Linked DNA regions of Homo sapiens. The protein of the gene in region 1 interacts with the protein of each later gene in a pairwise test. Each region holds a gene or a part of one and is shown on either strand. Other genes may lie near its edges.

Evidence for each region. The genes of interacting proteins can lie anywhere in the genome.
Region 2: the proteins of CENPC (region 1) and MEIKIN interact in a two-hybrid assay, tested with the Homo sapiens proteins (one study listed by IntAct).

What each region holds. Positions count from the first base shown.
Region 1 is NC_000004.12:67,468,242-67,472,514, forward strand, and holds the end of CENPC (centromere protein C), read right to left. Parts: 3' UTR 521-4,273; downstream 1-520. UniProt on the Homo sapiens protein: Component of the CENPA-NAC (nucleosome-associated) complex, a complex that plays a central role in assembly of kinetochore proteins, mitotic progression and chromosome segregation.
Region 2 is NC_000005.10:131,942,651-131,950,272, forward strand, and holds the start of MEIKIN (meiosis-specific kinetochore protein), read right to left. Parts: upstream 3,014-7,622; 5' UTR 2,856-3,013; coding exon 2,750-2,855; intron 2,600-2,749; coding exon 2,506-2,599; intron 2,103-2,505; coding exon 2,015-2,102; intron 46-2,014; coding exon 1-45. UniProt on the Homo sapiens protein: Key regulator of kinetochore function during meiosis I: required both for mono-orientation of kinetochores on sister chromosomes and protection of centromeric cohesin from separase-mediated cleavage.

The DNA of each region.
Region 1 (4,273 bases):
AAAGGCCTATGCTGATGGGATGAAGTGAGGTGAATGACACAGGCATTGTGACATAGCGTTAGGCTACTATTGTCAGGAGGATAAACTGCTTCAGGTGATCCTGGATCACAGAACCATGGTGGTATCAATGGTTGAAAGTCAAGAGCAGAAAATATTAATGACTAACGGGCAGGTAGTCTATAGTATAAATATGTTGGACAAAAGGAGGATTCATGTCCCAGGCGGGAGGGCATGGGATTTCATTATGCTATTTGGAACAGCACACAATTTGAAACTTATGGATTATTTCTGGAATTTTCCATTTAACATTTTTGGACCACGATTAACTGTGGGTTAATTGCATTCAAGGAAAGTGAAACCACAGATAAGGGGTTTATGAGACCACTGTGTCTCATAAATTGATTGTGGGAATGTAAAATGGTACAGCCAATCTGGAAAACAGTTTCCTAAAAAATTAAATGTATGCTTCCCATATGGGCATTACTCCGGAGAAACAAGAACTTAAATTTACACAAAAACCTGTAGGAAGTGTTCACTTCATCTTTATTTGTGGTACAGTCATCCATACTAGAGAATACCACTTAGCAATAAAAAAGAAATGAGCTATTGATAGGTATAACTGCTTGGATGATCTTAAGGGCTTTATGCTGAGTGAGAAAAACCAAAGGTCATACACTATATTATTCCATTGCTACAACAATATATAAGTGACAATATTACAGAGATGAAGAACAAATTAGTGATGATGAAACAGTTCTATGTTGATTGCAGTAGTTACACAAATTCACACATATGATGAAATAGAACTATACACATGCATTGTATCCTTGCCAAATTCCTGTTTTCTGCATTGTAGTTACATAGATGTAAGTAACCATTGGAAGAAATTAAAGACACATGCATCCATGTGGTAAGTAAATGGACAACAAACTGTGGAATCCTATCCAACAATAAAAATTAGAAAAATCATTAAAAAAACTCTCATGGGTGATGCCCACGATGGATTAATGGGTATCAAATTTGCCCTCCTCCAACAAACTTTAAAATAGAAAAAGATAAAAGGTAACTCTATGCAGACATTGGACAAAAGTGAAGGACGGTGATTCTTTTGTTTTCTTTTTTTGAGTCAGAGTCTTGCTCGGCTGCCCAGCCTGGAGTGCAGTTGCGTGATCTTGGCTCACTGCAACCATCATCTCCCAGGTTCAAGCAATTCTCCTGCCTCAGCCTCTGAGTAGCTGGGATTACAGGCACCTGCCATCATGCCCGGCTAACTTTTGTATTTTAGTAGAGACGGGGTTTCACCATGTTAGCCAGGCTGGTCTCGAACTCCTGACCTCATGATCCACCCGACTTAGCCTCCCAAAGTGTTGGGATTACAGGCATGAGCCACCATGCCCGGGTAGAAGTCTCTTTCTTTAAGACCCTTCATGAGCATGAGGGCTGCCTGACAAAGTAGGCAGGACTGTGATTCTTTAAAGACATGAAATTAACTCCATAGTCACCCAGTTTTATGCCTGGGGGCACTCTCCAAAACTGGACACAGAGAGTTAAGCTCAAAAAGAACAGTGGTCTTAATGGGCACAGAAAGATCACAATTTAGGGCTGTTGAGAAAACTGAATTGTGATGCAGGGTACAGAAGTGGAAACTCCACTGAAAAAGAGCTCCAGAAATCTGCACGAGGTGCCCAAGAACAGAACTTTCTGCAACTTGTATCTGTGACATCTAATGTGGTAGCCACCAGTACCATGTGCTACTAAGCACTTGAAATGTGGCAAATGCAAGTAAGAAACAATATTTTAAATTAATTTTAAATAGCTACAACTTGTGACTACTGTATCAGCCATTATAGCCCTAGAAGTTGGCTGAACAGTTGGCTGAACAGTAGGCTGCAAATGTGCAGAGCAAAATTCTGAGACATGACAGAAGCCTATGAGCTGAACAGAGTACAGAGGTGGCAAAAATCAGACGTGGCTCTGACCAAGCAGAATGGAGAGCCTTTGCTGAACCATATGGGCTTTCAGTTTAGACAAAGAAAGGCTACACTTAAGCTGGGCACAGTGGCTCACACCTGTAATCCCAACACTTTGGGAGGCTGAGGTGGGTGGATCACCCTGAGGTCAGGAATTCGAGACAGCCCTGGCCAACATGGTGAAAATCTGTCTCTACTAAAAACACAAAAACTAGCCAGGCGTGGTGGCAAGCAACTGTAATCCCAGCTACTCAGGAGGCTGACGCAGGAGAATTGCTTGAACCCGGGAGGTGGAGGTTGCAGTGAGCCGAGATCACACCATCGCACTCCAGCCCAGGCAACAAGAGTGAAACTCTGCCTCAAAAAAAAAAAAAAAGAAAAGAAAAGAAAAAAGAAAATAAAGAAAAAATATTGCTAAAGCTTTGGAAAAGAACTGTTGGAATCTGTGGCCTCCTTGAGTGAGGTCTCACCCACCCCTAGGTTGATTGGTAAAAACTACAGTTTTGTCTGGCTGTAGCTAACTGAAAAACTAGCAACTTTGCCGTAAGAGGAGTCTTGATTTACAGCAGAGGTATAAACCTACAACTTTGTAAGTCAAAAGTAAAAAAATCACTTAGGAATGGACAAGGAGTATCTGTAGTTGCTAACCAAAGGTTACAGTCCTAGTTCTTGAAGAGCAACAGAGCAGCCAGACATTTAACAAGGTCCTGGAAACAGAAGGGCAGAAAAGGGTAACATGAGCTCTCCAAACATCTTTGGCAAACTGAAATGATGCATGCACAGGGGAGACTCAAGAGAGCATGGCAAATGTAAAAACCAAGGGGAATTTGGGAACTGCCTCCTACAATGAATGCATCCCCCATCCCACACAGAACAACCAACAGTGGGTGGAAGGCTTATAGACTCAAGTGTTTGATCTTAACCTTTGTCCAAATGATTGGCTGACTGCTAAGCTATGCAGACACAGGAACTACCCCTAGCAAGCAAGAATAAATATTGAAATAAAGAACTTAAAAACTGAGCACAGACAGCAATAACTTCACATCATATATAAGATAGATTCCACAATTTGAGTCCAGTCAAAATGCTAAATTTAAAACAATACAAATCCCTTAGATATAAAACAAAATTGAGTTGCTACAATATGCTACCTAAAATGTCCAGCTGTCAACCAAAAATTATTAGACATGTAAAAACATATGAAAGTGAAATATACTAAAGGAAAAAAAGCATTCAGTGAAAACTAAATCTGTATGGGCCCAGATACTTGATTAGTCAAGCCTTCAATAAGACTTCATAACAAATATATTCAAAGAAATAAAAGTAAAAAAAAAATTAAAAATGACTCAATAAAAGAGAAATCACAATAGAAAATTATAAAGTATAAAAAAAGAGCCATCACACTTCATTCTTCCTAAGTCCTACACCAGAGTTGCTTTAAATGTGTGTATTTAATGGTTAAATAAGACCTGAAAAGGGAGTTGGCCTAAAAATATTTTTACCGTAAAACATCAATTTCTTCAGAGTTAATGAGAATTATATGCTAACCATACCAAAAACCTTGATTAGAATTTTTAGCTTAGATGTATTGATTGATATTAAAAAGGGAAAGTTGAGGCCACATACAGAAAGCAATGGCGAAGGACACTGCCTCCAACAGAAAATATGAACCAAAAAGCATAATGGAAAAACATTTACATGTAATATACTAAATAGATGTCATGCCAACACAGACACACAAGGTGAGAATACCATGTGATAATGCAAGTAGATTGAAATGCTACCGGTGCAAGCCAAGGAATGCCAGAAATTGCCAGTAAACCACCAGAAGTTAGGAATAAGGAAGGATTCTCTCCCTTACAGGTTTTCAAAGACATCACGGCCTTGACAACACCTTGATTTCAGACTTCTAGCCTCTAGAACTGAGATAATAAATTTCTGTTGCTTTAAGTCACTCATTTTGTGGTATTTTGTTACAGCAGTTCTAGGAAATTAATACAAACATGCCTTTTACCACAGTTCTCTCCCATTGGATTATTTAATAATAAATGATTTAAAATTAGTATTTGGAAAAGATGTTTTTTAATGAGTAGACATATTAATCAGGTCTCTTTTGACACAGAAATGTTCTATATTTCATTTTCATATTCTTGTCAAATTATAAAAATAATATCATAAATATGGACATCGCTACAAGCTATTATGTACAGTCACTGAAAAATCAGAAAAAACATGTGAGTTAGAAATGTTTATCAAATACAAGTCTACAGAAAACTGAATAAAATTTTTATTTTAAAACATCA
Region 2 (7,622 bases), on another chromosome or scaffold:
ATTTGATGAACTACTATCAACCTGGAGGTCATCAGTAACTGATTCCTAAGTGAAATAAGAATTAAAGCTATAGCAAAATTATGAGATTGACCATTTCTATATTATAATCTTGTACAGATTTATTTTAGAAAAATGAAAACATCAACTTTTTATATGTTTCATATATATAATACATTCATTCAGTTTATTGTTCAGATGTAATCTGATATTTAATATTAAACCTAAAAATAAATATTAAAATATAATACTATGAACATATCTTGTAATCAACAATATGCTAGTCAAGTAACTACTGTGGGATGACAGCAAATAGAAGATAGAGGTGAATATTTTTCTGGTTCCCTAGTGGGGAGGGGCTTTTTTTCCATCTATAGAGGCAAATATATAAATCAAAAGAAAAGACTAGTAAGTCTAAAATACTAGAAATAAAATTAAAGGCAAGTAAACAAATATGGAAATATTGGTTATATATGTATGTACAAAAGTATAGCTATCTTTAATATTTAATAGACATTTCACAAAACAGTACAAATGGCCAATAATTTGAGAAAAAAAATATCGACTTCCCCAGCATTCAAAGAAATGAAAAGTAAAAAACATGCTACTTTTCATCTATCTATCTATCTATTTCATATATATACACACACATATATATAAAAGTTTCAGGTAAGATGGTGCTGATTTATCAACATGAATAAAAAAACTTGAAACATGATCCAACCTGTGATCCACTGCAAAGTATTTATCTTAGGGTAACAATGTGAGGTACACAAAAACCTTCTGTAACAGAATGTCTATGGATATCAATAACAGCAAAACCTTGGAAACAATCTCAATTTCCCAACCACAGGGAAATAGTAATACAAATTACAGTGTATCTATCTACAAGACAAAGCACTATGAAGACACTGAAAGTCATATTTTTGAAGACTATTTAATGTATGGGAATATACAATAAGACAACTGGTCATTTTTTTTAAAGCACAGGAGAAAAGGAACAGAAATATATAAAAATTTTAAGAAACTTTCAAAACACTATTTTTTCATAGTATAAATACTCTACAAGGACTACTTTACACTGTTAAACTATGGATAAAAGCCTTTTAAAAAAATGTCTTGTGTTGAAACTGCCTTCCCCCAAAAACATGTTATAAAGGAATATTAAGTTAAAAAAAAATAGAACTTGGCCAGGTGTGATGGCTCAAGCCTGTAATCTCAGCACTATGGGAGGCCGTGGCGAGCAGATCACTTGAGGTCAGGAGTTCGAGACCAGCCTGGCCAACCTGGAGAAACCCCCTCTATACAAAAATTAGCTGGGTGGTGGTATACACCTGTAATCACATCTACTCAGGAGGTTGGGGCAGGAGAATCGCTTGAACCCGAGAGGCAGAAGCTGCAGTCAGTGAGCCAGGACTGTGCCACTGCACTCCAGCCTGGGTGACAGAGCAAGACTCTGTCTCCAAAAAAAAAAAAAAAAGGAACTTGACTATGAAGTTTAATGTTAATGTCAGATGAGTCACAAGCAATTTTTAAAATCTGAGCTTCCCTAAATTAGTGCTGTACAACTTTAAAATATAGTACAGAATTCATATTAAATACAGCACATCAAGAAGTTATAAAATATTCTAATGAATAAACATTAGAATGCTCTGTAACATATTAAACCCTTAGTAATGAATGTTTCCAGTTGTTAATGGAAAATCAAATGGAAAACATGAAAAAAGGAGTTATTAAGTAACATTTTGTATTTGTCATACAGAAAATTCACCAATTATGGACGTTTCTCCAAAAACGTGTCAAGAGAAAGAGAAAAACAAAAATGCATGACTATGAATCTACCCAAGTCAGAAATTCAAGGCCCTGTCTAAAGACACGTAAGTGTTTATAAAAATACTGGTGAGCTATGTAACATCTACAGAACAAAGCCCATTTTATTCTTTCATCCGGAGGTACATCAGGTACTGATAGTCTCTACACTAAGTGTGTCCAAGGACTAAAAGAGAAGCATACATACACGCAACGATGCAATCTTCTCATCCTGGGTGTCTTCACTAGACCTATTTTCTTGCAGGCTTTTCTCTCCTGTAACTCCTAAGCGAGGGCTAACAAAGAGACAACGCAATTAGTTTGCACCATCTGGATTTGGCTCTCCACGTCTCTGTTCAGACTCTTTAGAATCTGAAAGGCTCTTTAGGGACATCTTTAGGAAGAAGTAAGGACCAGAGTGGTGACTTGCACCAAAACCCAAATGCAGTGACACAATCGTATAGCTCACCGACCAATTTATCTCACTTCCTTTTACGTAAATTGGCAAGCCTTCCCCTTTTTAAAAATAAATCTTCCTGAAGTCAAATTTTGGGGTCCATGTTCTGAGAAGAGCAAAATCAGAGTACTGTATTTGTTTTGCTCCTTGACTGTTAGAATAAAAGGCTACTAGCAGAAAATTCGGCTTGAAGTTTTCTGAGGTGGCAAGCTAGGATCGGGCTGTTACTGGAGGCTACATACCTGAACGGCCCAGAGCCGCTACCTCCCTGCCTGCTCCGCTCTGCTTTCTCTGCAATCTTCGACAAGCCGTGCACTTTGCCTTTTCTCTTCGAACCTGAGAGAGGGCGGCACGTTTCAGGGCAAGAAACCTACCCACCGGCTTCGGGGGGGTCCTGGGCCCGAGGCCTAGCACCCCCGCCCGCCCTCGGTCCCGTCCCGGAGGCAGCTCGGCTGAGCTTACGGTGGGCGAGCCTTGAGCCTGTACCTGGCGGGGCCTCGGCCTTCGCTGGAGAGCCTAGGTCTGGCGTCGGGGTGAGATTGAGCCTCTGACCCTCCCGCTTTTTGCGGGTATAGACCCGTAGCGGCCACATTGCTATCCCACCCTACCCCCAGGCCACGGGTGCCTCTGGACTCTCGATGGCCTGCCTTCCTGAGGATCAGGGCTAAGTCACAGGGAGTCAGCGTCCAGGCGAGGCCCGCGGAGCAGCCTCACAGCAACTAATCGAGCGAAAGCAAAAGCCCCAGAACTGGAGCCGCCGGGCCTCGCTCCCGCGCTTTTATCTCTGTGAGGCCGCGCAGAGGCTTCTGGGAAAACGGAGGAGCGCGGCAGCCGCCCAGCCTTCCTATAGGGGCCCAGTGGTTTCTGGCCTTCTGGCGCAGGTTCCTTCAACTCCAGCGAAACGAGAGTTTTTTGGAAAAAACTTTTTCCTCGTCCAGAAAAAGGTTTAATTCAGCCCCTCCTCCTCCGTCTGAGCACTTAGGTTTCGCCTGTGGCTGCATGCTTAATTCAACTGGGCATGCAGGAGTAAAGGCGTTCCCTCCTTTGGGTGGGCCCAACACTTCCTCTGAGCAAGCTCTCCCTATCAGCACTGCATAAGGCCTTAGTAATGGAGTTTTAGGCCACCAGCACAGGCAGTCTTGTGAGGGGTTGGCCTCAGTGCAGGAAGGTCACAAAGAGGACTGAATGCACCTTAAAGTGACAAGGAGCTTCTCCCTGAGGAATCAACTTCAGTCCCCTGGGCCTGCAACTGACTGGGAAGCTATGGTAATTAAGAGGCTAACCAAGCCTCTGAAGATCCCGGGCTCTAGGAGGCTGCTTCTGGACGACAAACAGTCCCTTAGCCTGTGTCCAGGAGCCATCTCTAGACATCTGGGCATCCTTGTGGTTAAGGTAGAAGATTCCATAGGGGCTCTCCTCCTTGTGCCCTGGGCCTCAACTTGTTGCTGCACCAGACCGATCTGTTTCTTCTTCTTCTTCTTCTTTTCTCCTTTCTTCTTTCTTCTTTCTTCCCCTTCCCCTTCCCCTTCTCCTCTTTTTTTTTTTTTTTTTTTTTTAAGACAGGGTCTGGCTTGTCACCCTGGCTGGAGTGGAGTGGTACAATCATAGCTCACTGCAGCCTCAAACTCTGGGCTCAAGTGATCCTCCCACCTCTGTCTCCCGAGTAGCTAAGACTACAGGCACATGCCACCATGCCCAGCTGATTTGTAAATTTTTTTATAGAGACGGGGTCTTGCTATGTTATCCCAGCTGGTCTTGAACTCTTGGCCTCACGTGATCTTCCTGCCTTGGCCTCCTAAATTCTTGGGACTACAGGTGTGAGCCACCTTGCCCAGCCTTGGTTCAACTTTTATGTAACAAAATTGTGAGTTGTTTTTCAGTTGCCATGAACCCTGAGGTCATGTAACCTGAGCATGCCTAGATGAACCAAGCATGCAGCCACAGGGGAAACCAAGTGCTCAGATCAAGGAGGAGGGACTGAATTAAGAAGTAGATATGGCATGGCAGGATCCAACCGGGTTGAGCTCTGGCTTCATCCCATAGCAGGATCCAGTCAGATCATGCCTCCCAGCATCACCTCATTACAAGATCCAATCAGATCACATCTCTTTACCCTATGCTTATAAAAACCAAACCAAACCCCAGCTTAGGAAGACAGATTTGAGCATTTCCTCCTGTCTCCTTGCCAGCCCACTTGCAATAAAGCTTTTCTTTTCCCAAAAGCCAGTGCCATGGTATTAGCCTCTGCATTCATCAGGCAGTGAGCCCATTGACTGCTCGGTAGCAAACTCTTCTGCTCTGTCAATTAGAGATATGTTGGAATTACCTCCCTTTCTCTCCATACCCTAGGTTGAACCATCTGGCGACATCAGATGAGCATATTATGCACATAACAATAACCATCTTTTTATTCTAAAAAGTGGAAATATTTCATAACATTTAAAATGCAGTTTGAAGAGATAAAACTATGAAAAGCTTAAAGGTTTTTCTGTAACACCTCAGTCTTGTATGTGCGAATATAAGCACATATATATCCACAGTATTTTTGTAATATAATCACTGAATATTTTATTTAAAATCTGCTCACAGAAACATTTATGATAATCAATTTACTAGATAATTAATCATCAAAATCTAGCTTTCTAAAGAACAGATGGTAGGCATTCTTACCTGGTTTTACCTCGGGTTTTGAGTCATTGAATCAATATTTACTGAACACCTTAATCTGTATTAAGCACTGTGGTAGGTCCTGGGGATACAGAAGTGAATCAGAAATGGTCCTTCAGTTAAAGATCTCACAGCCTTGCTGCAGTATAAAGCAATTATCATCTTTCAACATTCTTTCTTTAGTCGTGTCCATAATATGCTGGCAGGCAGTCTCTAGTTTACAAGCCAGGCCTTTATGCTCCCCCCTCTCCCTTTGGGGGCTGTTGTGAAAAAAATTCAGACTTCTTAAATGACATTTGGGAGGTCTAGAGCCTGGGGTGCCTTAGGCCCAGAAATGGAAGAAACATTGCAAAATGAAAATAGGTTAAACCAAAAGCTGGTCTGCCATTTGGTGGTCCTGTTCCCTAGAACTCTGTCTCACTATACTGAATTACATTCACTGATATGTCATCAAGTAATTCCCATAGGTTTGTGGGAATTAACGTATCAGGTTTCAAAACCAGAAATAAACTTTGATATGATTTCTTTAGCCAAAAGGGTCCTTAGAGATGATCTAGATGCCCCCTCATTTTGCCACTGAGGAAACCAGAGTGTAGGGAAGCTATTTAAAACAGATGATTGGCATAGGGAACATGGTTCTCCTGGCATCTGGCTGCTGCGCTTGTCATACTCCCATTCTTCCTAACACATGGCTGGGAGAAAAGTAGGGGGAGCAAAGAGAGGAGCTTGAATTCCTTGGTGGCAAGGGGAAGTGAAGGAACTAGAGACAGACTTGGTCTCTTTGATACTTCACCTAGAGTCAACCTATAAAGGGGGAAAGAAACGTGTCTCCTAAAAAGGATGAGACAGGGCAGAGATATCTCAAATTCAGTCATCTATCTCCCCCTACTCCACTTCCAAATCTGCAAACACCAGTGCAAGTGTTTAATCATGAGTGTTCAAACTTCTTCCATTTCCCCATTGCACTGCTTCCATACCTAGACCCAAAACTCAGTAATCAGCATTTCATTTCAACACATGGTGGATTTGACTAGGCTTGGAACAGTCATGAAGATATTAACTTCCATGGGAAAACAAATGTCAAAGAGATTTCTGAATAAATCTTTTGGGAAAACAGCCAGTTTGTGGGTTTGAGATTCACTGGAGCCCAAAGTAAATCCTTTTGAATGATGTTTTCTTATGGAGTAACCCACTGAGCATCTTTGTGGTGCTATCCGTGAACTATGGGAATCCAACCACAAACCAGTTTATTTTTGCTTGGATGACAAGAATGGAATAAATTACAGTGAGAGAGGAAATATACCTTCAGGTATTGCAGTCTTAATGCTATGCAACACAAGAAAAAGGACCAAGGGGATTTTCCTTAACATTTCTTTAGCATCTGCTATCAGCCAGAGCCGCACTGGGCATAAAACTTCAAGCAACTCAGTCTACGTGGGGGTGGGGCAAAAGGACCATCAACCAATCAACCACGTGGGAAGCTTCTCAGAGAAAAGGATGCTGGAATCTGAGTTTTAAAAGATGAATGGTTGGAGTTAGGGGAATTAGAGGAAAGGGCATTCTAGGAGAAAGGGACTATATGTGTAAAGGCAGGTAGGCACAAGAAAGTATGATGCTTTTAGGGAACTACAAAAGTAATGAATATGATTGGAGCCGAGGCTCCATAGAGGAGGGAGTAGAAGAGATGCTAGTCCCTGTGTGCTGAACCAGCGAGTTTGAAGTTTATCCTGGAAACTATGGGAAGTCACTGAAGGACTATTAAGCAGGAAAGTGGCATTTTCAATCTAGATTTTCAATTTAGAAAGATTGCCCTGGCTGAAATGTGGATGGCGAAATTTGAGGATGCTGGAATGGAAACATGAAGGCTAGTTAAGAAAGCACTGTAATATTCCAGACAAGAGATAAGGGTGGCACAAACTACACTAATAGCTGTAACAATAGGGAGGAATGGATGATAGCAAACATATGGAGAAGGCAGAATCTGTCTATCTTGGACACAGCAGAATTCATTATTTTAAGAAATTGTATCCATTATTCTGAATATGAGTAAAAGACATGGAAATTATATTTTAAAGGCCACCATCATGGAAAATTTGAAGACAGTTATTTGTTATGTATTCATAAAAATGATTTAAATCCAGGAGATATCTGACAATAGCAAAAATTCCAACAGAGGCTTGAGCAAAGGAGCTCTTCTCTGGATGGACCATAATTTCTTGGAGTTTGTGGAACTTTAACAGAGGACGTAGAGTACGGATGTAAAGTATACTGATTGGTAATGCAGCTTGGTACTATGTTTATCATAAGCAGTAACTGTGATTGATAATTACCAAATATACTCACATGAGGGTATTATATTATGCAAATATATAAAATAGTAATTATAAGCAACTTTGAGAAATGAAAAATCTTTTATTTTTTACAAAAATTTTCATAAATGCATTTTATATTTAATATGCATGCTACTATAACAAAGCAACTGAAAATGTAATTACAGTTAAGATACTTTTATGCATATTTAAAAAGTAATATTTTAATCCCCTCGATTTTTAAAAATTGAAAGTGGAATAAGCAATTCTTCAAAAAATATCCATTCTCCCCCATGCAACTGTTGCAATGATTTAACAAGGAAAATTAGAATAATCGGTCAAATGAATGTTTAAAAGCCACTGTCACCTCATGAAACCCTTTC